Homo sapiens: one gene and its partner. The main gene of each other region encodes a partner of the protein of the gene in region 2 in a complex. Each region holds a gene or a part of one and is shown on either strand. Other genes may lie near its edges.

Region 1 (7,025 bases), on a different chromosome or scaffold from region 2:
TTTTAAACAAAGGTATGAGGGTGCTGGTTGATGCTCGAGAGAAGCTTCATATTCCCTGGGGAGACAACTCAAACCAACAACATGGAGATAAGATGATGTCGTTTGATACCCGGGCCCCCATGGCAGCCCAAGGAATGGTGGAAACAAGGGTTTTCTTACAATATCTTCCTGCTATAAGAGCATTATGGGCAGACAGCGGCATACAGAATGCCTATGACCGGCGTCGAGAATTTCAACTGGTAAGAGATTTGCTCTTTTAAAACGTGTGGTTTTATTTTAATGATGTTTAGTAATACAGGTTGCACATCCCTAATGCGAAAATTCGAAATGTTCCCAAATCTAAAAGTATTTGAGATGGAGGAACAGACTGAAAGGCTAAGGCACAGACCTAATGTGTCCTAGTCTCTAATGACTACGTGTAAAAATAGTGTATAAAATTACCTTTAGGCTACATATCTTAAGGTATATATGAAACATAAATGAATTTCTAGTTTAGACTTGAGTCCCATTCCCAGCATATCTCATATGTATGCAGATATTTCAAAAATCTGAAAAAATTCAAAATCCAAAACACTTCTGGTCCCAGGCATTCGGATAAGGGACACTCAACCTGTATCTGATTTTAGCACACTTTTTTCACTGACTTCCATAATTTAATGTATCTATCCAAAATTATAGCCTCAGAAATTTGTTTTTTTGTTTTTGGGGGGTTTGTTTTGAGACGGAGTCTCTGTTGCCCAGGCTGGAGTGCAGTGGTGTGATCTTGGCCCACTGCAACCTCTGCCCCCAGGGTTCAAGCAACTCTCCTGCCTCAGCCTCCTGTGTAGCTGGGTCTATAGGCGCGTGCCACCACACCTAGCTAATTTTTGTCTTTTTAGTAGAGGCAGTTTCGCCATGTTGGCCAGGCTGATCTTGAACTCCTGACCTCAGGTAATGTGCCCACTTTGACCTCCCAAATTGCTGGCATTGTGCCAGGCATTTTTCCCCTTTTTTCTTTAACGAGACTACCCATAAAATGCTTTGTAGCTGTTACACAGCATTGAAGACAGGTTTGGAATAAAAGTATCCAATCCAGGTTAAAGATACAGAATACAGTTGAAACAAATTTTTAATCAAGTGTTTTGTAATTTAACTGTGAATGCTGTGATTGGGTTTTATTTGCCAAAGATCAGAAAGATTCCAGCAGTGATAGAAATCTAGACTGTGTGCAATTTGGAGGTAGTTCAGATCTGAAGTGTTTTACTCTAATATGATTAAAATGAAGTGACAGTTAAAAGTAAAACTGCTGGCTGGGCACGGTGGCTCATGCCTGTAATCCCAGCACTTTGGGAGTCTGAGGCGGGTGGATCACCTGATGTCAGAAGTTTGAAACCAGCCTGGCCAACACGGTGAAACACCGTCTCTTCTAAAAATACAAAAATTAGCCAGGTGTGGTGGCAGGCACCTGTAATCCCAGCTACTCAGGAGGCTGAGGCAGGAGACTCGCTTGAACTCTGGAAGCGGAGGCTGCGGTAAGCCGAGTTCGTGCCACTGCACTCCAGCCTGGGCAACAAGAGCAGAACTCCATCTCCAAAAAAAAAATAAATAAGCTGCTTAGGAAGTTGTTTGATGATGTCACCAACATTAATCCACATTAATGGGTGTGGCTGCAAAGCGATGTACAACCAGCAGTCCTTGCTGTTATTATTTATACTTAGAAGCAGTCTTGCCTTTTAAAAGTTCCAGGAAAGTGTTCACGATAGCTTTTTATAAAACTGACACCTTAATTTTGACTATATCTGAATTATGGCTTTTATATCTGTCATTCAACTAGCATTTGATTATTTACCGTCTTGTATAGTTCTCTTCTATCATGTTTGTATCTTGTCTTTTCAAGTAATGTGTTTATTTCTGAAAGGCAGGGACTGTCTCACATTATTGTTAAAATTACGTAGCTGCCAGTATTGCATGTTGAAAATGATGAATTTAACTTGACAAATGACCTCCATCCAATTCCCAGATTTCTGGTTAGTTTTGTCCCTTGATCAATGTTTATTACTTTATTTTTGGTAGATTTGCTTGCATGAGTTCTTCCATATACCCCTTTCCATCGCCCATCACTCTACCTCCTGTTTTTTGTTTTTTTGCATTTTTTTGAGAGTTTTGTTCTTGTTGCCCAGGCTGGAGTGCAGTGGCGCGATCTTGGCTCACCTCCGCCTCCTGGGTTCAGGCGATTCTCCTGCCTCAGCCTCCCAAGTAGCTGAGATTACAGGCATGCGCCACCACACCTGGCTAATTTTGTATTTTTAGTAGAGACAGTGTTTCTCCATGTTGGTCAAGCTGGTCTCTAACTCCTGACCTCAGGTGATCTGCCTGCCTTGCCCTCCCAAAGTGCTGGGATTACAGGCATGAGCCACTGTGCCTGGCCATCTACCTCCTGTTTTTAAGTGCTGCTTATTCTCCTTTCTTCTTAGTTCATTTTCTCAACAAACCACACACTTTCAACTCAATTTTGTCAGGCTCTATTCATCCTTCCAGGTCAGAGAAGAAACATTCATCTGTAATAAGCATACAGTGCATATGGATTAAATGAATAAATAAAGAACTGCATACCTGAAAGTTCTCTGTGGGGAAGTTCCGTATTTGCCCTAAGTCCATTTAATTAAAGTTGTGTTTCATGGACAGTTTTTTAATTTGGAAGCTGACGTCTAACTGTCTCACATCAGGACTGTCATGTCCTCATTGTTGAGAAAGCATCCCTAAGTATATCTTTGTGATTAAGAACGAATAGGTAAAACCACTCAGGATGAGGACCTGCTTGTTGTTGACTTGAGCCAGTTGATCCTTAAGGAGCAAAGAAGTCCTCAAAGATGAGGAGAGATAAGTTCCAGAAATACTTTTTTCCATGATGAAAAGTAGAGACAAGAAAAGAGGAACAGAGCAAGACCTAATTTTAAACTTCTGGAGGACAGAGATTCTTTTTTCCTGAGTCTACGCTCAGCATTGTTTTTTGTTTTTTTGTTTTTGTTTTTTAAGAGAAGGTCTCACTGTTGCCCAGGCTGGAGTGCCCTGTTGTGATCATAGCTCACTGTAGACTCAACTCCTGGGCTCAAGTGATTCTCCAGCTTCAGTCTCTCAAGTAGCTAGGACTACAGGTGTGTGCCGTCACACCCAGCTAATTTAAAAAAAAATTTTTGTAGAGACGGAGTCTTGCTATGTTGCCAGTGCTGGTCTTGGACTCCTGACCTCAAGCAGTCCTCCTGCCTTGGCTTCCCAAAATGTTGGGATTATAGGCATGAACCACTGTGCGTGGCTTCAGCATTGTTAATAGCACCTGACACATAGAGATGCTCCATTATTATGTTGACTTAATGACTCTTAAACTCTTGGATGTGCTGTGGTGCTTGGCATAGTGTCAGGCACTGAGAAGGCACTTGGCTTACTTAAAATTTTCCTCAAAGTCATCATCAATTCCATCTACTCATCTACATGCAGCAGCTCCCCAAGTTCTGATTTTTCTACCTCTGTAACGTCTCTTGCATTCATTCCCTCCTTTCCTCTATTTTGTGTTCTGCTACCTCTTGCTTGGACTCCAAGGCAGTCTTGTTCAAACACAGCATTGGTTTGCTCAGAAAGCTTTGGTGGCTCACCATTGTCTTCAGAACAGAGCTCAGCTTTTTTGTGGGAGTAAAGACTCTAGCTAGCTTACCTGTGATTCCAGCAATATATTTCATTAGGCCACTGGACATACTCTGTAATCTCTTGATTCCCACATACCCTAATTTTTTGCTTCTATAGCTCTCATCATGCGTAGTCCCTCTGCCAGAATTATTCTTTACCCTATCTGTTACTAGGTCTTACCCTTCACTTAATGTAGTGATAATCACACTAAATGTGGCCCATGGACCCCATGGACTGGAATGCTTGTTAAAACAAACAAGCAGATGCTCAGACTTTATACCTGAGGATCTGATTCTGGATTCTGGGATGGGACCCAGTGATCTGTGTTTTCAGCAAATAGCCATAGGTGGTTTGGATGAATTTGCTCCATGCCCCCTCCCTTTCCCCAGGAACAGTGCCTTAGGGGCTGTGTCTCTTTATTTGAAGCATCTCCAGTCTTCTTGGCTAGAATGGAGATCTCCGTGTCCTTTGCTTTCCCTAGCATGCTTACTCCTGTCACTCCTCACAGTACCCATTATGTGTGTTAGAGTCACAGCTTTCATGTGTGGCTGTCAGTCATGTAGAAGTCCTTTGGTATGCCTAGTTTGTCTTTTTCTCTCCTACTAGCATAGTGCCTGACACTTTTATTTCCTCGTTTTTCAGACATTCTTAATTACAAAGATGTTCTAAAAAAATAAAATACCTGTAATCCCAGCTCTTTGGGAGGCTGAGGCAGGCAGATCACTTGAGGTCAGGAGTTGGAAACCAGCCTGGCTGACATGGTGAAACCCCATCTCTACCAAAAACCAAAACCAAAACCAAAAATTAGCCAGGCATGGTGACATGTACCTGTAGTCCTGGCTACTCAGGAGACTGAGGCACGAGAATCGCTTGAACTCAGGAGGTGGAGGTTGCAGTGAGTGGAGATCATGCCACTGCACTCCAGCTTGAACGTCAGAGTGAGACCCTGTCTCAAAAAAATAAAAATTAAAAAATATGTAATATAATTTAATTCTACATTAAGTTCCTTCTGGGAAATATGGATTATTTCTATAATAGTTTCCTAATTTTCTAGGAAGTGGACAGTTCTTGTGTAATTATAATTTTTATTTGGGGGGGTTGAAATGTGTTTTGTTATGTTTAGCAGCATATTTTTGAATTTTGGATAGGAAAGGTAAACATCAGAAGAAATAGAGGTTAGCAGATAAAATAACTAAAATTAAAATTAACCTTTTCGTTTCAACTAATGATTTGATTATTAAACTTATTAATGCACATTAAAAACTGACAGGTTTTAAGGCCCTACATGACTTAACATTTTGCCTAAGATGAACAACTGCCCTTTAATCAATTTTCGGGACAAGGGATAGGGTGTTGATAACACAGCTTAGGTTTTTAGCAGACTACTCATTTGTTAGTAATAACTTTGGGTGTAAACATGAATGTTTTTCTTTCTAAGTTCCCAAAGGTAAACATTTCCTTTTTTGGTTAGTTCCATCATGGGTCAGCTAAATAGCTTACTGTGGAAAAGAAAAATACAAGATTCACATTCTCGTTATAACTTAAGGTACCTTTCTAGTTATTATAAATTAGCATACTGAGGATAATAGATTGTAAGAAGTGGCCTGTTTTAGTACTGAATTAAATATTTGAAATACTCTACTCTGGCTGTACATTCAACATAGCCTGCCACTGCACTTTTGAGTTACCCTGTCTTTAGAAAACCTTCTTATGTGACAATAGCTAGATAATTTGGTAACTCAGATGAATAAAGAGATGGGAGTCAGGGGTTGGCTGGATGATACAATTGGAGATATGGATGAAAACTGACAAAATGGCTAGGAGTCATTTCCAACTATTTTTTTTTGTTTAATTTATATTCACTTATTGAGAAATAAGGCAACACTTGTTACGTAGGACAGGACAGTGTGTGTGACAGTGGGAGGAACATCCCACAGCTTCCTACTTTCTGTAAACAGTTTAACATTGTCAGCATTAATACAACTTCCTGTAATGGCCAGTCTGTCTTTGCAATTCCTGAAACCAAAGTGTTTTTGCTAATCATGGTACCTTCAGTTAGACTTAATTCTTTTCTTTTTGTGCTTGAGGTTACTCTTCTTGAAGCCGATAAGATAGTGTATTCATTAACACAGAGATTTACTCCCTCAATCTGTGTAACAAAGTAACCATTTAGCTCCATGATTGGCCTGTAAAAAGGGGAGGTCCAACTAAGTATTCTAGAAACTTCAGTTTCAGCTAATTTTTTTTATTTATTTATTTGCACTGCAGCATGTATTGGAAATATAATACAATCAAGAGTCATTTGAAGCTCCTGTAGTCCCAGCTTCTGGGGAGACAGGAGGATTGCTTGACCTCAAGAGTTCAAGTCCAATGTGGGCAACATAGTGAGGACAGCCCCCTCCCTCTTAAAAAAAAAAAAGAATCAGAGTCATTTATTAATTAATGCTAATTTGGATTTGCTTTAAATATTAAAGAATTGCTACTTTCAGTTGTAAAATACTATGTTTCTTTTGGATGATTGGTCCATTTTCTCTATAAGTATAGTCAAGCAAGGACTTTGAGTTGCTAAAAACCTATTGGTTATCTTTTGATTCTAGGATTAGTGTTAAATATTTCATCCCATCTAAAATAAAGATTATATATAACATTAGAGATAGTAGAGGTTTTTATCTTACTTTATTAATATTTTTTAGAGACAGAGTCTCACTCTGTTACACAGGCTGGAGTGCAGTGGTGTGATCATAGTTCACTGTAACCTTGGGACTCCTGGGCTCAAGTGATCCTCCTGCTTCAGCCTCCTAAAGTGCTGGGATTACAGTAGTGAGCCACCTCACCCAGCCAGAGATAGTAGAGATTTTAAAGTTGAGTTTAATTTCCTTTTGATGAAATTGATCAGATGTCAGAGTGGTTACATTTTATCCAAATCTTGTAAACCCAGAGCTTTATGTTTATTTACGTTAAAAATGAAGTTTTTTTCTTTTTAATTAATTTCTTTTTTAAAATTTCCGTCAGTTCCTTTAAGTTTACACTTATAGTTTTAATACAACTTTGTGAAGTGTGTGTGCATGCACACATAGGTGGTATCACTTGTATTCTATTATGTTGAAATTTTCATGTTCGCATTTTTTTGGGTGAAAACTTGACTGGCTGTAGGATGTCTGGGTTCTTGGTGCTAAAGCTTCCGGAATTGGAAAATACTGTGCTGCTTTCTATATTACCTTTTATTGCTAAACAAAGCTAGGGGCACAATAATTTATGATTCTCTGAAAATGTTTATTAAACAACTAAGAGATGGAACAAGTAAATAGTTTTGTTATGAAAAGTAGACTTTAGTTTCAGAACTCTTTACCTAGAGCGTGGACCTA
Region 2 (6,930 bases):
GAGGCTGCAGTGAGTTATGATGGAGCCACTGTACTCCAGCCTGGACAAAAGAGTGAGACCCCATCTCTTAAAAGAAAAATCCCTGAGAGGAAGGGGGTAATGTGGTTCACAGAGGTAAAGTCACCTGTCCAAAGCCACACAAGATTATAAGAATAGCTATGTTTTTGTTTGTTTTATTAATTAATTAATTTATTTATTTTTGAGACAGAGTTTCGCTCTTGTTGCCCAGACTAGAGTGCAATGGCACGATCTTGGGTCACTGCAACCTCCACCTCCTGGGTTCAAGTGATTCTTCTGCCTCAGCCTCCCGAGTAGCTGTGTTTACAGGCATGTGTCACCACGCCCGGCTAATTTTGTATTTTTAGTAGAGACAGGGTTTCTTCATGTTGGTCAGGCTAGTCTTGAACTCTTGACCTCAGGTGATCCGCCTGCCTTGGCCTCCCAAAGTGTTGGGATTACAGGCATGATCCAGTGCACCTGCACTATTTATTTATTTTTTGAGATGGAGTCTTGCTCTGTCGCCCAGGCTAGAGTGCAATGGCGCAATCTCGGCTCACTGCAACCTCCACCTCCTGGGTTCAAGCAATTATCCTGCCTCAGCCTTCCGAGTAGCTGGGATTACAGACATCCACCATCACACCCAACTAATTTTTGTATTTTTAGTAGAGACGGGATTTCGCCATGTTGGCCAGTCTGGTCTTGAACTCCTCACCTCAAGTGATCTGCCCACCTCAGCCTCCCAAAGTGCTGGGATTACAGGTGTGAGACACCGCACCTGGCCGATATCCTGAGTCTTGATTTGGGTGTTTAATTACATGGTGTATCCAATTTTCAGGATTCCTTATATTCTTCCCTTAAGATCTGAACATTTTAATCAAATTTTTTGAGACTAATTGTTAATTAAATGTAATTTTTAATTACATTTATTTTTTAATCACGGCTAATTTTTATTTTTTATTTTTTTTTGTAGAGATGGGGGTCTCACTTTTTTGTCCAGGCTGGTCTCAAACTCCTGGGCTCGAGTGATCCTCCCGCCTCAGCCTCCCAAAGTGCTGGGATTACAGGCATGAGCCACAGAGCTTAGGTGCCCTTTCTTCCCCCTCTGTTTCCCAGGCTGTAGTGCAGTGGTGCGATCTTGGCGCACTGCAACCTCCGCCTCCTGGGTTCAGGTGATCCTCCCACCTTGGCCTGCGCAGTAGCTGGGACCACAGGCACGCACCACCCAGCTGGCTAGTTAAAAGAAATTTTTTTTTTGTAGAGACAGAGTCTTGCTATGTTGCCCAGGTTGATCTCAAACTCCTGGCTTCAATTGATCAACCTGCCTTGGCCTCCTAAAGTGATGGGATTACAGGCATGAACCACCATGCCTGGCCTACATTTTAATTTAATTTAAAAATAAACACAAAAGAGCTGGGCGCGATGGCTGATGCCTATAATCCCAGCACTTTGGGAGACCTAGGCAGGCTGATCACCTGAGGTCAGGAGTTCGAGACCAGCCTGGCCAACATGGTGAAAACCTGTCTCTACTAAAAACACAAAAAGTAGCCGGGTGTGGTGGTGTTCACCTGTAGTCCCAGCTACTCGGGAGGCTGAGGCAGGATAATCACTTGAACCTGGGAGGTGGAGGTTGCAGTTAACTGAGATGGCACAATGGCACTCCAGCCTGGGGGACAGAGCAAGACTCTGTCTCAAAAAAACAAAAAACAAGCCAGGTGCCGTGGCTCATGCCTGTAATCCCAGCACTTTGGGAGGCCGTGGCAGGCAGATGACCTGAGGTCAGGAGTTCGAGACCAGCCTGGCCAACATGGTGAAACCCTGTCTCTACTAAAAACAAAAAAATTAGCTGGGTGTGGTGGTGCATGCCTGTATACCCAGCTACCAGAGGCTGAGACAGGAGAATTGCTTGTACCCGGCAGGAGGAGGTTGTATTGAGCTGAGATCATGTCCCTGCACTCCAGCCTGGGCACAGCAAGACTCTGTCTCAAAAAAAAAAAAAAAAATCAAACCTGACAGCTATCATTTTTTAGTGTTATATGCCACATCTATCTGAAGTCCCTTGACCAATAATGAATTCTCATGATTAGTTTATGAAAGATGTGATGTTAATAATAAAAATAAGCTAATGTTTTAGGAGCACTTATCATTCATTTGTTCACTCCCTGAAAACAATGTTTTTTGTTTTTTGTTTTGAGATGGAGTCTTGCTCTGTCACCCAGGCTGGAGTGCAGTGGCGCGGTCTTGGCTCACTGCAAGCTCCGCCTCCCGGGTTCATGCCGTTCTCCTGCCTCAGCCTCCTGATTAGCTGGGACAACAGGCGCCCACCATCACATCTGGCTAATTTTTTTGTATTTTTAGTAGAGATGGGGTTTCACTGTGTTAGCCAGGATGGTCTCCATCTCCTGACCTCGTGATCCGCCTGCCTCAGCCTCCCAAAGTGCTGGGATTACAGGCGTGAGCCACCACGCTCGGCCAGAAAACAATGTGTTTCACACCTATCACCTGCCCAGCAGTCTTCTAGGCAACAGACATGCAACAGTAAACAAGCCAGACACAAAAATGACACTCTTCCTAGTAGGAAGGCAGACAACTAGAAAAAAATAAGAGAATGTTGCCTTCCCCAAAGGGTAGGGGAAAAGTGAGGCAGAGAAAGATGGGGAGTGTTGGGGTCTGGTTGGCATATTTTACAGACTTGATAGCATTGACACCATTAAATGAGACCGCCAGGAGAAAAGGACCATGATGGCCGGCCTCGGTGGCTCAGGCTTATAATCCCAGCACTTTGGGAGGCCAAAGCAGAAGGATGGCTTGAGCCCAGGAGTTTGAGACCAGCCTAGACAACATAGTGAGACCCCTGTCTATAGAAAAAAAAAATTTTTTAAATTGGCCAGGTGTGGTGGCACACGCCTGTAGTCCCAGCAACTCAGGAGGCTGAGGTGGGAGGATCACTTGAGCCTGGAAGGTTGAGGCCGCAGGGAGCCATGATCGTGCCACTGAACTCCAGACTGGGCAAGAGAGTGAAAACCTGTCTCAAAAAAAGAAAAAAGGTGGGGCACGGTGGCTCACGCCTGTAATCCCAACACTTTTTGGAGGCCGAGGTGGGCAGATAGCTGGAGCTTAGGAGTTCGAGACCAGCCTGGCCAACTTGGTGAAACCCCGTCTCTATTAAAAATACAAAAATTAGCCGGGCGTGGTGGTGTGTGCCTGTAATCCCAGCTACTCGGGAGGCTGAGGCAGGAGAATCGCTTGAACCTGGAAGGCAGAGATTGCAGTGAGCCAAGATTGTGCCACTGCACTCCAGTCTGGGCAACAGAGCATGACTCTGTCTCGAAAGAAAAGAAAGAAAAAAGCAAAGCAAAGCAAAGCAAAGAAAAGAAGGAAGCAAGCAGGCACCATGAGTGACCACCTTGATTCAAAGAGGAAACTGAGGCACGGAGATGTCACTAGCCTAAGGTCTGACCAAGAGTCAGGCTGGAAATGCAACCCCAGAGCTCCTTCTAGGGGTGGCCCTGACTTTGGAGTTGGGGACCTAACAGAACCCTTTATTCTCTCCGTTGTTGGGGAGGAAGATGCAGAAGGTTAATGACCAGAGGATGAATGACTGAAGCCTGGGGTCTCTAAGGGAGGAAATGGCTTAACCCAGGGAAGGTCAGTAGCGGGGGCCTCCTCTTCCCATAGCCGAGGACCTGATAAATTTGGGGGTGTGTGGTTGGAGAGAGGGGACCTTCCAGCTGGGGACTTGGAAGGATTCGGGGGTGTTCCAGTAGCAGATGAGCCTCACCCGTGGCTGGAGGCGTTTAATGGGGTGAAGCCTGAAAGGGGTTAAGGGGCAGCGGCAAAGGTGGGGTTAATGGGGGCGGGCCTGGCCGGGGCGGGGCCTCGGCTGGCGGCTCTGGCCCGGGGGCCGGGAGGAGTAGCCGCTGTTCTGCCCCGCGGGGGCATCCGCTGGGTCCCCGCGCCGTTGTCAAGACCGGGGACCTGGACGCAGCGGAGAGAGGTGCCGCCGCCCGCCCCGTCCAGTCGCCGCGCGCAGGTAAGTGCCGGGTCCTCCCCGGCTGCCCGCGATGCTGCGGGGTCTCACTAGGTTGCCCTGCTCGTGGCGAGACCGCTCCTCCCCGCCCCCTCGGGGGCTGCCTCAGTCTCCCGCGCCGTCTCGGTGCCCGCCCCCTCTGTTGCTCTCCCTGGCTTTGCGTCTGTCTCCAACTCCCGCCTGATGTCTCTGTGTCTGTGGTCCCTCTGCCTCTGGACGTGTCTTTCCTTCTGTGTCTCTGGATGTCTCTGTCTTTTTCTTGATCTCTGCCTCTCTGTCTCCGTCTGTCTGTCTCTGTCTCTCTGTTTCTGGGTCCCACCTCCCTCTGCCCCTGCCTCTGCCTCACCCCCGTCTGTTGTGGGACCTCTGCGGATGTCTCTGACTCTATCTCCATCTCTCCCTGTCTCTGTGTATCTCTTTGCTCTCTCCCTTCCTGTCTCTTCATCTCTATTGCCCTGTCTCTTTCTCTCCGTCTCTTATAACACTGTTTTGGCACCTTCAGCTCTGTCTTCTCTCCTTCCAAATCCTCCGCATCCCGGAACTTTCCTCTGGGCTGGGAACCTGCTTGGGAGTGGGGTAGGGGGCAGGAGGCTTGTGACCTGGGGCAGGCGGACTCTAAGTGACACCATGATCCCAGCGCCCCCTTCACGGAGCCACCCCACTGCCCCTCAGGTCGCACCCAGCCCGCCCGCCAATTTCAGGAATTCCTGCCTGGGGGGTGGACTTCCTCCCCTACTTCCTCTCTTCCAGGATTTGGCTGGGTCACCATTAACTCTTTCCTGCTTCCGCCTCACTCTCCCCCCTGGAACTGGACAACCCCTCCTCCCAAACTAGGCTGAGGAATAGCTCTAGGATATCTGTGAGGCATCGGTTGTGGGATGTGTGTGTGTGCGTACTCAGGCTGGATATGCATTGGGGAATTTGTTTGGCGCAGAAGTGGAGAGGATGGGGCCACACCCCCCAGTTCCCCCTCCAGAGCCCACCATCAGCCCCCCTCCTCCTGAGCCCACCAAGGGGGTATCCGCCCCCACCTCTGTCTTTGTAGATGAACTTGACTTCAGGTTTGGGGTGAGGATGAGGAGGTTTTCTTTTCTGGGGGAATCCCAGCTGAAGAGGATGAAAGACCCATAGGGGCTCCTGGAACCCTGGGAATCCTATGATCAAGTACCTTGAATGTGAACATCTTTGAATGGAAGGGCCCAGATGGAAGAAGCATTGGAGGGGAGGCCTGGGAATTCCAGATCTTTCCAATCAAAGGTCCTGGGGATACTGGAGTCCTTCAATCCAAAAAGAGGAGTGTTGAAATCTTGGCACGTTTCAGTGATGGCAGCTGAGAGCTGGAAAGGGTTTGCGGAGCCACCTAGGCCAACTCCCCCTGCCCCCATTTTATAGATGGAGAAACTGAGGTCCAAAAGCAGAAGTCCCCACAGTGAGTCAGTGCCAGGCTGGAGGGTTGGGACCCCAGTTTTCAACTGAAGCCCAAATCCACAGAGCTGGCTTCTTCTGCTACCACTAAGTCGGATTAATTTGGGGAAAGAGGTCTTCTCAATGAGGAGGGAGAGATGCCAGGGTGAGTAGAAATGGCTGGAATCCAGAAGGGAGGGTTTTAGAAGCAGAGGAGAGAAAATATTTCCAAAACCATGGTGGTGGGGAGGGAGAGGGGCAATAGTTGGTTTGGGTGGAAGGGGTGGAGTTTCGGGAAGAGAGGGAGGGAGGTGGAGGGGAACCGGGATTAACTCCAGCTTCAGTCTCCTGACCCTCCGCCTGGAGCCCACCGTTCCCTCGGGGACAGGGCCTATAATTTGGTTTGTGTCTAGACAAATAATAACTCAGCTGGTGTGAGCGGGGAGGGCTGAGGCTAGGCCCACTAGCGAAAGGGTAGAGAGGCGGCCTGGATATAGCATGTCACCCCCAGGTGGTGAGAATTTAGGGGCCAGGTGGAGGTGGTGACTAACACGCCCCTCTCTTCCCTCCATGAAGCCATAATTTCTTAGAATTCTGCACAATCTTAGAAATCAGGCTGCTGGAATGTTCAAAAGCAGGCGAGAGAAGGGGGGAAAGAAAAGGAAGTGGGGCTCACCGTATTTAGTGTATGTTCCCATTTCTGTAAAAGAGAAAAGGGAAATACATATTCCTGTTTGCTGGGGAAAGATAAAAATCACTGAGCGTTTAATAATAGATTATGAAAGTCATAGAATGCTTAAAAAAATCATAGCGTGTTCTAACAATAGAACTTTCGAATCTTGGAATGTGACACTCCTAGAATATTGGAAACTTAGGGTAGGTACTTACAAAGCCACGATGTAATAAATAGAATGAAAGAAGAGTAACGCTCTAGAATGTTATAATAGAACATTCAACTGCGAAGTGAACTAAGGATAGAACCTGAAGACTGCAGAACCATAGAGACCTAGAACGTCAGAGAGGCCATCTAAGGACTGGTATCCCTAGTAGGCAGTGTGGGCTTTGGGGGCACAGAGACCCTCTCGGTTGAAACAGGGATACTGAGGTGCAGTGGGGCCGTTAGGGTAGCCCGATTGCCCCCTGGTTTCCGCCGGCCGCCAGGGCACCAGGTGGGGAGCGAGGACCAGTGATCACATTTCGTCCCTAATGAGCAGACCGGAGCTGGCTGGTCCCTTGGGGCTGCAGGGAGAAGGCGGGGAGGGGGGGGTGGTGGGAGCAGGAGCCCACAGAGGAGGAAAAGGGGGAGGTGAGATAGCCTGGTGGCATCGGGGACAAGGCTGGTGAGTGAGCCCAGGGGTGCTGGGGGATGCGGGGGGCTGTAGCACTTCTCCCTCTTGTCCTCAAAATCCTCCAAGTTTTTCAGCTTTGCTGGATTTTGGGGTGGCTGGCAGGATGCGGCAGCCGAGGCTGCTAAAGTTGGGGGGGCCAGGTCTTCCTAG

The links.
Region 1: the proteins of GPR4 (region 2) and GNA13 are in contact, whole or in part, in a cryo-EM structure (PDB 9JHP), measured with the Homo sapiens proteins. Residues at the interface, in NP_005273.1 of Homo sapiens: Gln45, Asn50, Arg115, Ala118, Val119, Ala120, Pro122, Leu123, Ala126, Ile204, Val208, Ser211, Val212, Ser213, Thr214, Glu218, Lys221, Ile222, Leu225, Asn290, Glu291, Gly292, Ala293; in NP_006563.2 of Homo sapiens: Arg47, Pro341, Tyr343, Phe359, Lys363, Asp364, Ile366, Leu367, His368, Asn370, Leu371, Lys372, Gln373, Leu374, Met375, Leu376, Gln377.

The regions. Positions count from the first base shown.
Region 1 is NC_000017.11:65,046,716-65,053,740, reverse strand, and holds part of GNA13 (guanine nucleotide-binding protein subunit alpha-13), read left to right. Parts: intron 1-12; coding exon 13-239; intron 240-7,025. UniProt on the Homo sapiens protein: Guanine nucleotide-binding proteins (G proteins) are involved as modulators or transducers in various transmembrane signaling systems.
Region 2 is NC_000019.10:45,599,195-45,606,124, reverse strand, and holds the start of GPR4 (G-prodeshotein coupled receptor 4), read left to right. Parts: upstream 1-3,912; 5' UTR 3,913-4,030; intron 4,031-6,930. UniProt on the Homo sapiens protein: Proton-sensing G-protein coupled receptor activated by extracellular pH, which is required to monitor pH changes and generate adaptive reactions. Activated by an optimal pH of 6.8-7.2.